3 linked regions of the Homo sapiens genome follow. The protein of the gene in region 1 interacts with the protein of each later gene in a pairwise test. Each region holds a gene or a part of one and is shown in the gene's direction. Other genes may lie near its edges.

Evidence for each region.
Region 2: the proteins of CLCN7 (region 1) and KCNN3 interact in binary tests that used the Homo sapiens proteins (3 or more experiments, as listed by UniProt).
Region 3: the proteins of CLCN7 (region 1) and TLCD4 interact in binary tests that used the Homo sapiens proteins (3 or more experiments, as listed by UniProt).

Annotation. Positions count from the first base shown.
Region 1 is NC_000016.10:1,468,381-1,472,133, reverse strand, and holds part of CLCN7 (H(+)/Cl(-) exchange transporter 7), read left to right. Parts: intron 1-370; exon of another isoform or gene 371-510; intron 511-3,753. UniProt on the Homo sapiens protein: Slowly voltage-gated channel mediating the exchange of chloride ions against protons. Functions as antiporter and contributes to the acidification of the lysosome lumen and may be involved in maintaining lysosomal pH.
Region 2 is NC_000001.11:154,702,568-154,706,320, reverse strand, and holds part of KCNN3 (small conductance calcium-activated potassium channel protein 3), read left to right. Parts: 3' UTR 1-3,753. UniProt on the Homo sapiens protein: Small conductance calcium-activated potassium channel that mediates the voltage-independent transmembrane transfer of potassium across the cell membrane through a constitutive interaction with calmodulin which binds the intracellular calcium allowing its opening.
Region 3 is NC_000001.11:95,148,228-95,151,980, forward strand, and holds part of TLCD4 (TLC domain-containing protein 4), read left to right. Parts: intron 1-474; coding exon 475-564; intron 565-1,980; coding exon 1,981-2,039; intron 2,040-3,097; coding exon 3,098-3,192; intron 3,193-3,753. Other genes in the region: TLCD4-RWDD3 (TMEM56-RWDD3 protein), read left to right, coding at 475-564, 1,981-2,039, 3,098-3,192.

The DNA of each region.
Region 1 (3,753 bases):
CTCTGTGGCTGCCTGGGACGCAGGCGCATAAAGCTGCTTCCTTCCTGCTGGAGACAGGCCCAGTGCCCTGTGCGGATGGTCTGCAGGGCCCCTGGGGCAGGAGCAGTCACAAGGCTTGGGCTTGAAGAGCACAAGATCTTCAGGCAGGCGGACGGGGGGAAAGGACAGAGGGAGTGTGTGTTTGGGATGCGCTGTGGAGCCTGGAGGTCAGCCCTGCTGCGCACATGAACAGGCTTTGAATTTGGCTCATCTCTAGGGGAGCCCATGGGAAGCTAGGACCCCATTCCTGAAGGGCCCCAGCCTTCCCCTGCAGACAGACTGGAGAGGCGGAGTCTAGAGGCCAAGACACCACCTCTTAGGCCAGGCGTTTGTGCTCTGAGCATCGGACTCGCCGATGGCCTCCTGCAAGGCCTGTAGCCTCCCTGTTGCCCAGTTTTCCCGTCTGCGAAAAAGTTAACGCATGCATAGCGCTGAGCACGGTGCCTGTCACAAACTACGCTCTGAAGAAACGTGAGTCGTGCCCGGTCGTGTTAAAACCAGCAACACAAGAGGGATTCGTGTTCGTTGTGACTTTCCTGTCCAACTTCCTGAGTAGCTACTGGATTTCTTGGTGCTGCTTTTCTGGGGGAGGGTCTGCTCTGACTGGTGGGCACAGCTCACAGTTAGGCTCAGGCGCACCCCAGTGTGGCCACAGACGGGGTACTGTAAGCTGCCCTTGGGTTCAAGGCCTCCAGAGCTGTTTTGAGCTAAAATATCAACCCAGGCCATCCCCTGCTGACGGGACTGTTCCAGTGAACATGAGAACTGGTCCTAGCTGCCTCCAGGCTCTTTAGGGTTTGTTGCAGGATTTTCAGGTTGGCTGGTGGTGTCGTTGCCACCTCAGCGTGGGCACAGCTGGCCAAACACTATGAGGTGGCTGCCCTGGGCAGGGCAGACTGTGGAGTGGCTTGTTGGAGGCTGGGTGCCCGCTGAAAGCCCAGGCCCTTCAGAGCTGCCTGTGGGTTGCTGTTCCTGTTCTCAGGCCGGTCTTGCTTTGTGTGGTGTAGTGGTGAATTGACCAAGCCAGTCACTGCTCATCTGGTGGTGTTGGGACAGGGCGAGGGTGAGGTCAGCCAGCCCTGGCCGTGTGTGGGCGGCAGGAAGCAGAACTCCTTGAGAACTGAGAGGGAAAGCGGCTGGAGCCAGAAACACTTGGGTCTCAGGGGGCAGTGAGGGGAGGTGGGTATTTGCAGGACATCCCTGGGAACTCATGTTGGGACACTCCACATAAGACCTTGGCAGGGCAGGGGTCTGGGTTAGTGTGGGACTGTGTCCTGCCTGGGCACCCGGAGCCACAGACCGCAGCCTGAGAAAGAACTGTGGGCGCAGCAAGGCTGCGGGGGAGGGTCTGGGGTCGTCGCCAGTGGCCCCTTGAGCTCTGCTGTACTTGAGGAAGTGCCCCTTGGTTCTTTTCTGGCCTCCAGGAAGTCCTCTGCCAGCCTGGGAGGGTTCCCCTGCTGTCCCCTGCCCTTCCCTGCCCTCCAGCATTGCTGTTCAGTGTCTGTCTTGCTTTAGGTCTCTGCCTTAACGCCATGGGGACACTGCATGGACAGCAAAGGCCTCTCCTTGGTCTCTGTGGCCTTTGTGTGTCACCTTGTTTCCTTTGACTGTAACCCCCATCCCCCCGCGGGGCAGCTGCTGTATCCTCTGTGCCTAGCGTCTAGCCTGGTCCTGGCAGAGGCCTGCTGAATGTTAGGACGCAACACAGGCCGAGCAGAACAGCAAATGGTCTTTAATCCTGCTTTAAGTTTTAAAAAAAACTGTGGTAAAGAACACATACCATAAATTTACCATTTTGAGCCAGGCATGGTGGTGCACGCCTCTCATACCAGCTACTTGAGAGGCCAAGGCGGAAGGATTATTTGAGCCCAGGACTTAGAGACCAGCCTGGGCAACATAGCAAGACCTTGTTTCTAAAAAACATTTTGTTTAATGACCGTTTAATCATCCGTGAGTGCAGTCAGTAGGGTTGAGCACGCTCTTAGTGTTACACAACCCATTCCTTGCCAAACTGAAACTGCACCCATTCAACGCTCTCCCTTCCTCCTGCTGCCCAGCCCCCTCGTTGCCATCTGCCTCAGGGGACCTGACGGCTCCAGGGCCCTCTTGCGAGTGGACCTGCGGGAGCTGTCTTTTTCTGACTGGCTTATTTCACGGGGCACAGTGTCCTCCGGCCCGTCGTGCTGCAGCACGGGTCGGTGGTCATTCCTCTTTATGGCTGAATTATTCCATTGCGGGGAGAGGCTGCATTTCCTTGACTCACTCATCCATCGGCACAGCAGGTGCTTCCGCATTTTGGTCATTGTGAACGGTGCTGCTGTGAACATGGCGTGCAAGTGGGACTTTCAGACGCTGCTTTTTTATGTTTGTTTTTGGTTTTTGGTTTTTTGTTTATTTTTGTTTTTGTTTTTGACGGAGTCTCCCTCTGTCGCCCAGGCTGAAGGGCAGTGGTGTGATCTCAGCTTACCACGACCTCTGCCTATTGGGTTCAAGTGATTCTCCTGCCTCAGCCTCCTGAGTAGCTGGGATTACAGGCGCCCACCACCATGCCCGGCTAATTTTTGTATTTTTAGGAGAGTTGGGGTTTCGCCACATTGGTCAGGCTGGTCTTGAACTCCTGACCTCAAGTGATCAGCCCGCCTCAGCCTCCCAAAGTGCTGGGATGACAGACGTGAGCCACCTCCCCTGACCCTGAGTTTTTTTATGTATTCTGAATATTAATCCCTTATCAGATATTAATTCCTTATCACATTTGCAAATATTTTCTCGTTTCATAGGTTACCTTTTGCTCTGTTGTTTTCTTTGATGTGTAGAAGTTTTAAAGTTTGATGTAGTTCCCCTCTATACATTATTTTGACTTTTATTTTGTTTTATTTTATTTATTTATTTGAGACAGGGTCTTGCTCTGTTGCCCAGGCTGGAATACAGTGGCAGGATCTCGGCTCACTGCAACCTCCACCTCCCGGGTTCAAGCAGTTCTCCTGCCTTAGCCTCCCGAGTAGCTGGGATTACAGGTGTGCACCACCATGCCCGGCTAATTTTTTTTTTTTTTTTTCGTTTTTTTTAAGTAGAGACGGGGTTGCTTCATGTTGGCCAGGCTGGTCTCGAACTCCTGACCTCGGGTGATCTGCCCGCCTTGGCCTCCGAAAGCGCTGGGATTACAGGCGTGAGCCACTGTGCCCAGCCCTTTTTTGACTTTTAAATCACTCTGGATTCACAGGAAGCAGCAAAGGTAGCACAGGGGGCTTGTGTACCCTTCACCGAGTTTCCCCCCAATGTTTACCTTTCCGTAACAGCGCAGCCCCAAAACCAAGAGAGTGTCGGTGCAATGCGTGTAGATCCGCGTAAGCACCAGGAAGGGGGTGCAGGCTATTTTCAGACCCATCTTTCTAGTCCCACCCACTCCCAACCCTGATGACCTCGCCTCCCGTCCGGCCCGAGTCTCGCCTCTCGGGAGTGTTGGCTCACGTGTTCCTGAGCCTGTCTGTTTTTAGTTAGTGTCCGGCGCTTGGGACCGTGTAGGTTGCCGTGTGTGGCAGGAGTTTGAGGAACAGCATCTAGTGTTTAATTTATAAGAGCTTGCATTTAAAAAAGAAAGTAACCGCACGGAATGCATTGCTGAACTTGAAGTAAACGTCGTGTTCTTCCATTACGAAAGCCACCTTCTCAAAGTCCTGGCAGAGTTAAGGAAAGAGATGCTGGGAAGGCAAGGCG
Region 2 (3,753 bases), on another chromosome or scaffold:
TACCTTTGTAAGAAGACATCATCACCATTCTGAAGGCAGTGGCTTGGCATGGAGATTTTTATTCTGTAGCACTGGGCCTGTTCTTCTAAGGACAGCACAAGGTAGACAATTGTAGAGCCAAGGCCACTTTTTCAGGAAGATCTAGTCTCTTGCTAACCCTCTTCTTTCTCTCTTGCTATTGCTGCTGCTCTTTTGATGGTTTATAGTCTTAATGGCCTGCCTTGATAATTCCTTTGAACACTTTCATTAGTTGTTTTGCATACCAGAGATGCCGCACCTGCTGTTGGCTTATTTTTTTACTTGTTCTATTAACTGTTGATTATCTGAATGTTTCCCCTCCTCCTTGTTTCATGTCCCAAGAATGGTGCTCCTGTTTTCAGTGACAGTTCAGCTGAACATATAAGCAGATGTGTAAACAGATGAAGTAACCATGCAGTTTCCTTGTGGCATTAGTTCCATTTCACAAAGTGAAGACCACTGGTGGGCTGATCTGAGTGTGCCAATCCTGATCATTTAAACCTACAGCCTTCAACTGGTGATTCCTACCCACCGTTTTCATTCTGCTATAACCCTGTGATATGTGTGCGTGTGGGTGTGAGTGTGGGTGTGTGCACATATAGAGATTTAGTCTTAATTTCAACCAAATGACATGCAAGATTCCACTGCCACTCTTCCTGGCCAAAAGTGTGCACAGACTGTGATTTATTCATTGTGGTCTGTGACTTTAACCCATCATTGATGCTCTCACTTAGGTAAACCCTAAAGACCAAACTAGCAACACTAGTCAAGGGAGTGACTGGAGTTATTTCTGGTAGCAGTAGCCACTGGCATCCTAGAAACACATGGACATTTGTAGCATGAATTGACCTATTGGTAGTGCAATAGCTATACATGATTTTTATTCTTGGCAAAAGAAAATGCTTCAAAAAAAAAGTGATCAAACCTGCACATTGATCCTGTAATAGCAAATGGAAGGCTATTTCTCTGTACTAGCATTTCAGCTTTATGTGGGAAAGTTACCCGTTCTCCTGCAAGTACAATCAACCCTTGATGACTTAAGTATTAATTATTCTGGGTGTAGCTCACCCAAGTTTTCTTCCTACATCTTTTGGCTAATTCCACCACACCTCAGCATCACAGTCAGATGGGAAAAGGGGCAGGTGGATTCTCATGTCATGCCTTCTTGTACCTTATTTTCAAGTTTTGTGGTGGAGGAGGTTTAATTATCTGCTCAAGAATCTGGTATATATAGCCAGGTGCGGTGGCTCATGCCTGTAATCCCAGGACTTTGGGCAAGGCGAGAGGATCACCTGAGGTCAGGAGTTCAAGACCAGCCTGGCCAACATGGCAAAACCCCATCTCTACTAAAAATACAAAAATTAGCTGGGTTTGGTGGTGGACACCTGTAGTCCCAGCTACTTGGGAGGCTGCGGCAGGAGAATCACTTGAACCCCGGAAGTGGAGGTTGCAGTGAGCCAAGATCGTGCCATTGCACTCCAGCTTGGGTGACCGAGCAAGACTCCGTCTCAAAAAAAAAAAAAAAATCGGCTATATGTAAAAACTATTAATTATGTAACCTCACTCCAATACTGTACTGATCAAGATCTGCCCACTCCTAGAGGACTGACCCAATGGCAGATCCCCTACTATAATCTTTCTGACAACTCAGTGACAGGTAAAATCACTCTAATATTCCTAAAATATCTAGACACTTGAATTAGAAATACAGAACCACCCCCACCCCTGCCATTGCTTAAGCCATATTAAAGCTTCATGTACTGTAAAGTCAGGGATGTACTGTGATACTTTAAGACCACTAATCTCAGTGGAATTTCAGGACATAGCATTAGTTGGTAAATTACACCAGACTAGGGGCTCACTCCTCCTTAGATTGAAGTCCAAATAAAAGTCTTCACCTTTGGATCAAAGGCCACATATATATGATCATCATCAATAAATTGTCATAAAGTGTCTATGAACTGCTCTTGCCATCTTCCTAATACGTAACTTCATGACATCATGTCTCTAGAAGTGCTTAATACAATCCAAAAGAACAAGGGGGGAAGGCCCCAAGTCACCACTGACCGACCTCAGCAGGGGCCAGTGGTAGAACAACAATCTTGTGAATTAGGAGACATAGAAAATGTACGCAAAAGTAAATTCCAAGCGCTGAGCATGTACAAGCTATTTTTATTATTAAAAGCCAAGAAGGAAGAGCATTGAAGAAGTAATGATTTTAATATAGTGGGGGATTTCCCCCTTAAATTTTTATAATTTCCTTGTGAATAAACAATCATGGAAAAGAAGAAACCTAGTCATACAAAATCAGAATAAATAAAAATCTTAAGACTGGATCCACATCTTTGGCCAATTCATATAAGCACCTAATACATCAATTTCTCTGTACTTAAAATGAAGAGAATAATTAATATTCTTAAGTACAATGTTTTCAATAGAGAACAAATGAAATCACCTTTGTCATCAACAGCAGCCCAGACTGACTGTATCTAGATCACACCTTGATGTTACGTTTGAATGCAGTCAGTAGTTACCAAAAAGTAATTAGTGCACATTAAATAGTGGTAAAATCAGCAGGGAGAAATATGGGATTAGCACGTAGTTCCAGAACCTTCCTCCTCCTCCAGAGTGCAACTCAACAAACAGTACACTCCAAATTAAGAATCAATGTTTCATCCCAGGACAAACGGTGTTGCTCCCATCACAGTACCACAACTGAGATACTGTGAAGTCATTGCACTACCAGTAGGTTACTACTCTTTTGAAGTTACTGTTTTTAAATCCTAAAATATGTCCCCAGTTTTCTACATTCATTCTTCTTCCCCTAAGAGTTGCTAGAAGCAGATGAAGGATCCCTATTGACTCTGCAGGGTTTGATTTCAGTACCTTAGACAGCTATCTGGTGACTTCCCAGTAGGCACGAACAACCCCTTCTCTCCCCTTGCAGTCGGTGGGCTTGATGACGCCCCAGACAGTATCCTTTCCTTCTCTACTGCCGCCAAAATAAACATTAGGGAAATGGGATCATTAACACCACTGAGAAAGGAGTTTACAGGGATCGCAATAGTAACTGTCTGCTTGTGGTAGTAGAAAGCTTGTGCCAGGCTGCATGAATAGAAATTAATGTTAAACTCCTGTTAGACGAGTAATATGTAGATTTTTATTGAAACAGACCACAGCTTATTAAAAAGTACTCAGTGCAATGGTATATACATATATACAGATAGAAAAAAATATAACTGTGATCTTTTTGTCTTACGCCATTACTGGAAACACCCAAACGTGAACTGGAGTTCCCTCTGAACAAAACCATTGTCAAATCTTCAACATATGACCTCCAAATCTAGGTGCCAAGTGCCCTGTGACAGTTGTTTACACACCTGAAAAATGTATCCTGGAAGCTGTAATCTTGGGCCTGGGCTATGTGTTGAAACAAGCAAAAGAGACACATCGTGACCAACCAAGCTGGTGGAGGAAAAGCACAAAATTCAACTCCAACCTGCAGTTAGGATCCCAAAGAGATGTTGACATTTATAGCCAAAAAGAAAAAGTACATATATATATATATATATATATATATATATATATATATATATATATATCTGAATCAGATCGAAGCAGCCAACGTCCAGCTTCACTCAAGAAGGACAAGGAATAAACAACATTCTCTAGCTGTGTCATGTTGTCTCAGTTTTTGAATCTCAACCAGGACTGATCCACCTTCATCAGATACGT
Region 3 (3,753 bases), on another chromosome or scaffold:
CCATTCGAATTGTTTTAAGGATATGGAGTTTGTTAAAGCCAGTAGATCTGGAAGTCATTCCCAGCTGATTGGAGCAGGAAACTTATCCTGCATTGATGCTGTTGGGGCTGGAGCTTGGAGCCAAGGGTAGTGGCCTTGCCAGTTGCCATCTGGCTGCACAAAAGTCTGTCAGCTGCATCATCATGTATGCATTTATCTGTCTTAGAACTTTTAACCAATAAGTGATTCACCAGTTCTCTAGCAGGAAATTGTAGGCCTTGGTATCTTCCTCCTTCTTTATTCCAAAGTAAAGCTGTGGCCTTTGGATTTCTAAATGGCAAGAAATGGCAATTTTGCATTATACTCTCCGTTATACTTCACACCTGTATATAAATGCTTCCAGGTATAACTTGTTCAGAATGTTCTGTGTCTTGTCAGGATTAAATTTTATTGCAAAGAATCTAAAATCTTTGTGTGTATTTTGTTTAATTTCAGGGTAGTATCCACATGCCATTCTTTGGTGGTTGGTATTTTTGGCCTGTACATTTTCTTATTCGATGAGGCTACTAAAGCTGATCCACTTTGGTAAGCTGTTTCTTTTTCTAAGATTGCCAATTTCATTTATGTTTTGATATTAATTATTTATAAGAACATCACTTACTTTAAAACAGAAAACATATTGATCGTATATGCCTTATTAAAATGCTTGTGCTCAGACATTCTAGCAAAGTGCATTTAAATGATTTATTTTAGATTTGAACACAAATGAAGGCCATTTTGCCTTAGTGTAGCAATTGTTATCCAAAACAAGGAGAATATGATGATAATTTAAACATTTTTACTGTGTTAATGAGTAAAGCCAAGTTATTGTAGTCACAGTTCTGAAGAAAAATAAATCATTATTGAGATAGGGTAGTCAACTTGGATAATATCTACTTAAGACTTTTTTGTCTCCAATTTATGTTTGACTCATTTGATATCAAAGAGATGAAATGAGAGTTACAGATGGCCATGTGATAGGAATTTAGTACCACAGGATTTGAAGCACTAATGCACTAATAATAACTGTGTTCAGTAGTAATAGGATAACATGTAAGATGGTCCTTTTAGAAAAATTTAAATGTCATTCCAATGGCAGAAATTTTGCAAACTGTTTCCTGGTGTTATATGAGAAGGCTTAGTTCAGCTTAGTTTGAGAGAGCAGGCATGTTTGAAGAAGCACTGCACTGAGATGAGGTAGTTGTGGGCTCCGGGGGATGTAGGGCAATTTAGCCTTTTCTTTTGACCACCACCATTTGACTGCAAGGACGTTTTTCTATTCATAAATATAAAATTATTCCCAGAAGAATAATATCAGTATTGATACATTTTCATTGGGATGCTGTTTTTCAAAGAGAATTAATTTATTGAATTTAATTCCATGACTAGGTTTTTAAATAGTCTACCTACAAAATTTCTAGCTTTTTAAAAATTTTCGTTTTCATTTTACTAACGTGACCATCAGCAAAATAAAACCAGTTCTTTTGGGAAGTAAATTTCATAACAAAGATTTGATTCATTGTTCAAGTTTTGCCTTATCGAACTTTAACATAATTTTTGATTTGAATTTTATGTCATGATTTACTCCAGGTCAAATTTTCCTGGTTATATTTACAGATCAAAATTTGTAAAGAAGGCACAACTTGTGCTAAATCTTTCTATTAAATATTTGTAGTCCAGCTATTTTAGTTAGTGTTACTTTCACTAGTAGTTCACTTTGTAACTATCTTACTATGTAAGATAACAGCAGTAGTTACCTTACTGCTAACACCAGTACCACATGATGCGTCACAGTTTGGCTAAACTGTCATTGTGTGTTTTGCAATTTTATTTGAAGATGACAGCTTACCATTTGAGAATCTATAGAAAGCAATTTTATTATATTTAAATCTCTATAGAAAAAAGAAGTAGCGGTCATCTACAATCTATATACTTTAAAAAGGAACCTTTTTTTTTTTTCAGGGGTGGTCCATCACTTGCAAACGTGAATATTGCTATTGCCTCAGGCTACCTCATTTCTGGTATGTGAGATGTTGTTTTATTGTCTAATTCCTTGTAAACTACTCACGGAATTATACAAAGAATATATAGTCTATGCTTTTGGTTTATTTGAGAGATAGCATTTAGGAAGCATACAGAGGAAAAAAATACCTCCCATGATGGTAGAACATGAAATGTCTTTTCATGAAATGGTTTTCTGTTTCTCACTGAAGATCAGAGTTACAGAGTGATGCCTCAAACAACTGAGGCCTGGACATTTTTTATCAGCAAGGATATGGTCCCTCTTTGTCCTAATGAGGCTCTTAAGTGTAATGACTGTGAAACTAACGAAATTTAACTTTTAGGGTCCCTCACTTGCAAGAGTTCTTGAAATGTGTTCCAGTAGTCATGGTTTTGTGTTGTTTTTGTAAAATTTGCAGAAGTAAGCTTTTTTCTTTGTTTTTCTTTTTAATAGTTATAGTTTTTGGTGGCGTCACTATTTTGAATTAGTATTTAATTGCATTCTTTTTTATTTTTAAAATATTTTTTGTACGATTTGTTTTATAAATGAGTTGGTCATTTTGTACCTTCCCTATGACCATCTTATCTCTGTTTGAATTATTGTAGTGACAAAAATCAGTCACTTAAGCTTATTTAAAATTATTTCTATTCAATAATATTTTTTGTTTATTTTAACTCTGGAAACAAGTTATTCATTTATGCTTTCAACAAATATTATATTACATATGATTAGGTTGGTACAAAAGTAATTGCAGTTTTTGTGATTAAAAATAATGGCAAAAATCACAGTTACTTTTGCACCAACCTACATGCCAGGCCTTGTGCTAGATTCTGAGGGTTTAAAGATGCTCACAACCTGGCCCTTGTCTTAGAGGAGCCACAGGAGTGTGGATGAGACAGGCATATAGGAGCAGAGATTTTATGGTAAAGTAGATAATCAGACTAACTGAGGGATGAACAAAGTGCTGTGGGCTCAGAGTGGACAGTGATGAGTTGGCAGGAGAAAGAGTTCAATACATTTGAAAAACAGTGCAACTTTCTTCTTATGTAATACCTTACTCACTTTTCTTTCTTACAGATTTGTCCATTATAATTTTGTATTGGAAAGTGATTGGTGACAAATTTTTTATAATGCATCATTGTGCGTCCCTGTATGCATACTACCTTGTACTGGTGAGTTCCAGGATTTTCTGTAGCCTAACTAGCAGACAAGATTGGGAATAGTGATGTAAAGGTGAACATAAATCTAAACATACAATTCTTAGTTTTTAAAGACCATCTCCAGATGCATTCAGGGATTGCTTTTGTGGTATGCTATCTTCTGTATTAACTAAAATAATACCTTTATGTGTGTCTGTGTTGGTGTTGGTGTGTCTGTTTGTATTCATAGATTTTGAGACAGACAAATGACCCTAATTCTTTGAATTTCCATTTAAAACCTTCAGGATTGTTGTAGCTATAGATATTTGTCTGTATTTCTAGATGCATTTATGATTTAACAGCAAAGAGTATGAGCCAGCGAAAATATTTCTTTTCTGTTTAATTCCATGTGCAATTACATATACATAATTACATTTAAGTAGGTTGGAGCAGTGGAGAAATCTTGCTCAGACTTTTTCAGAATTCCAAGACCAAGGTTAATAGAGGATTCTTCCAACAGATCTCAGGCAGTAAAGCATATTAAATTATATATCTAAAATTTCTACATATACATATGTAAACTAGCAACTTTAT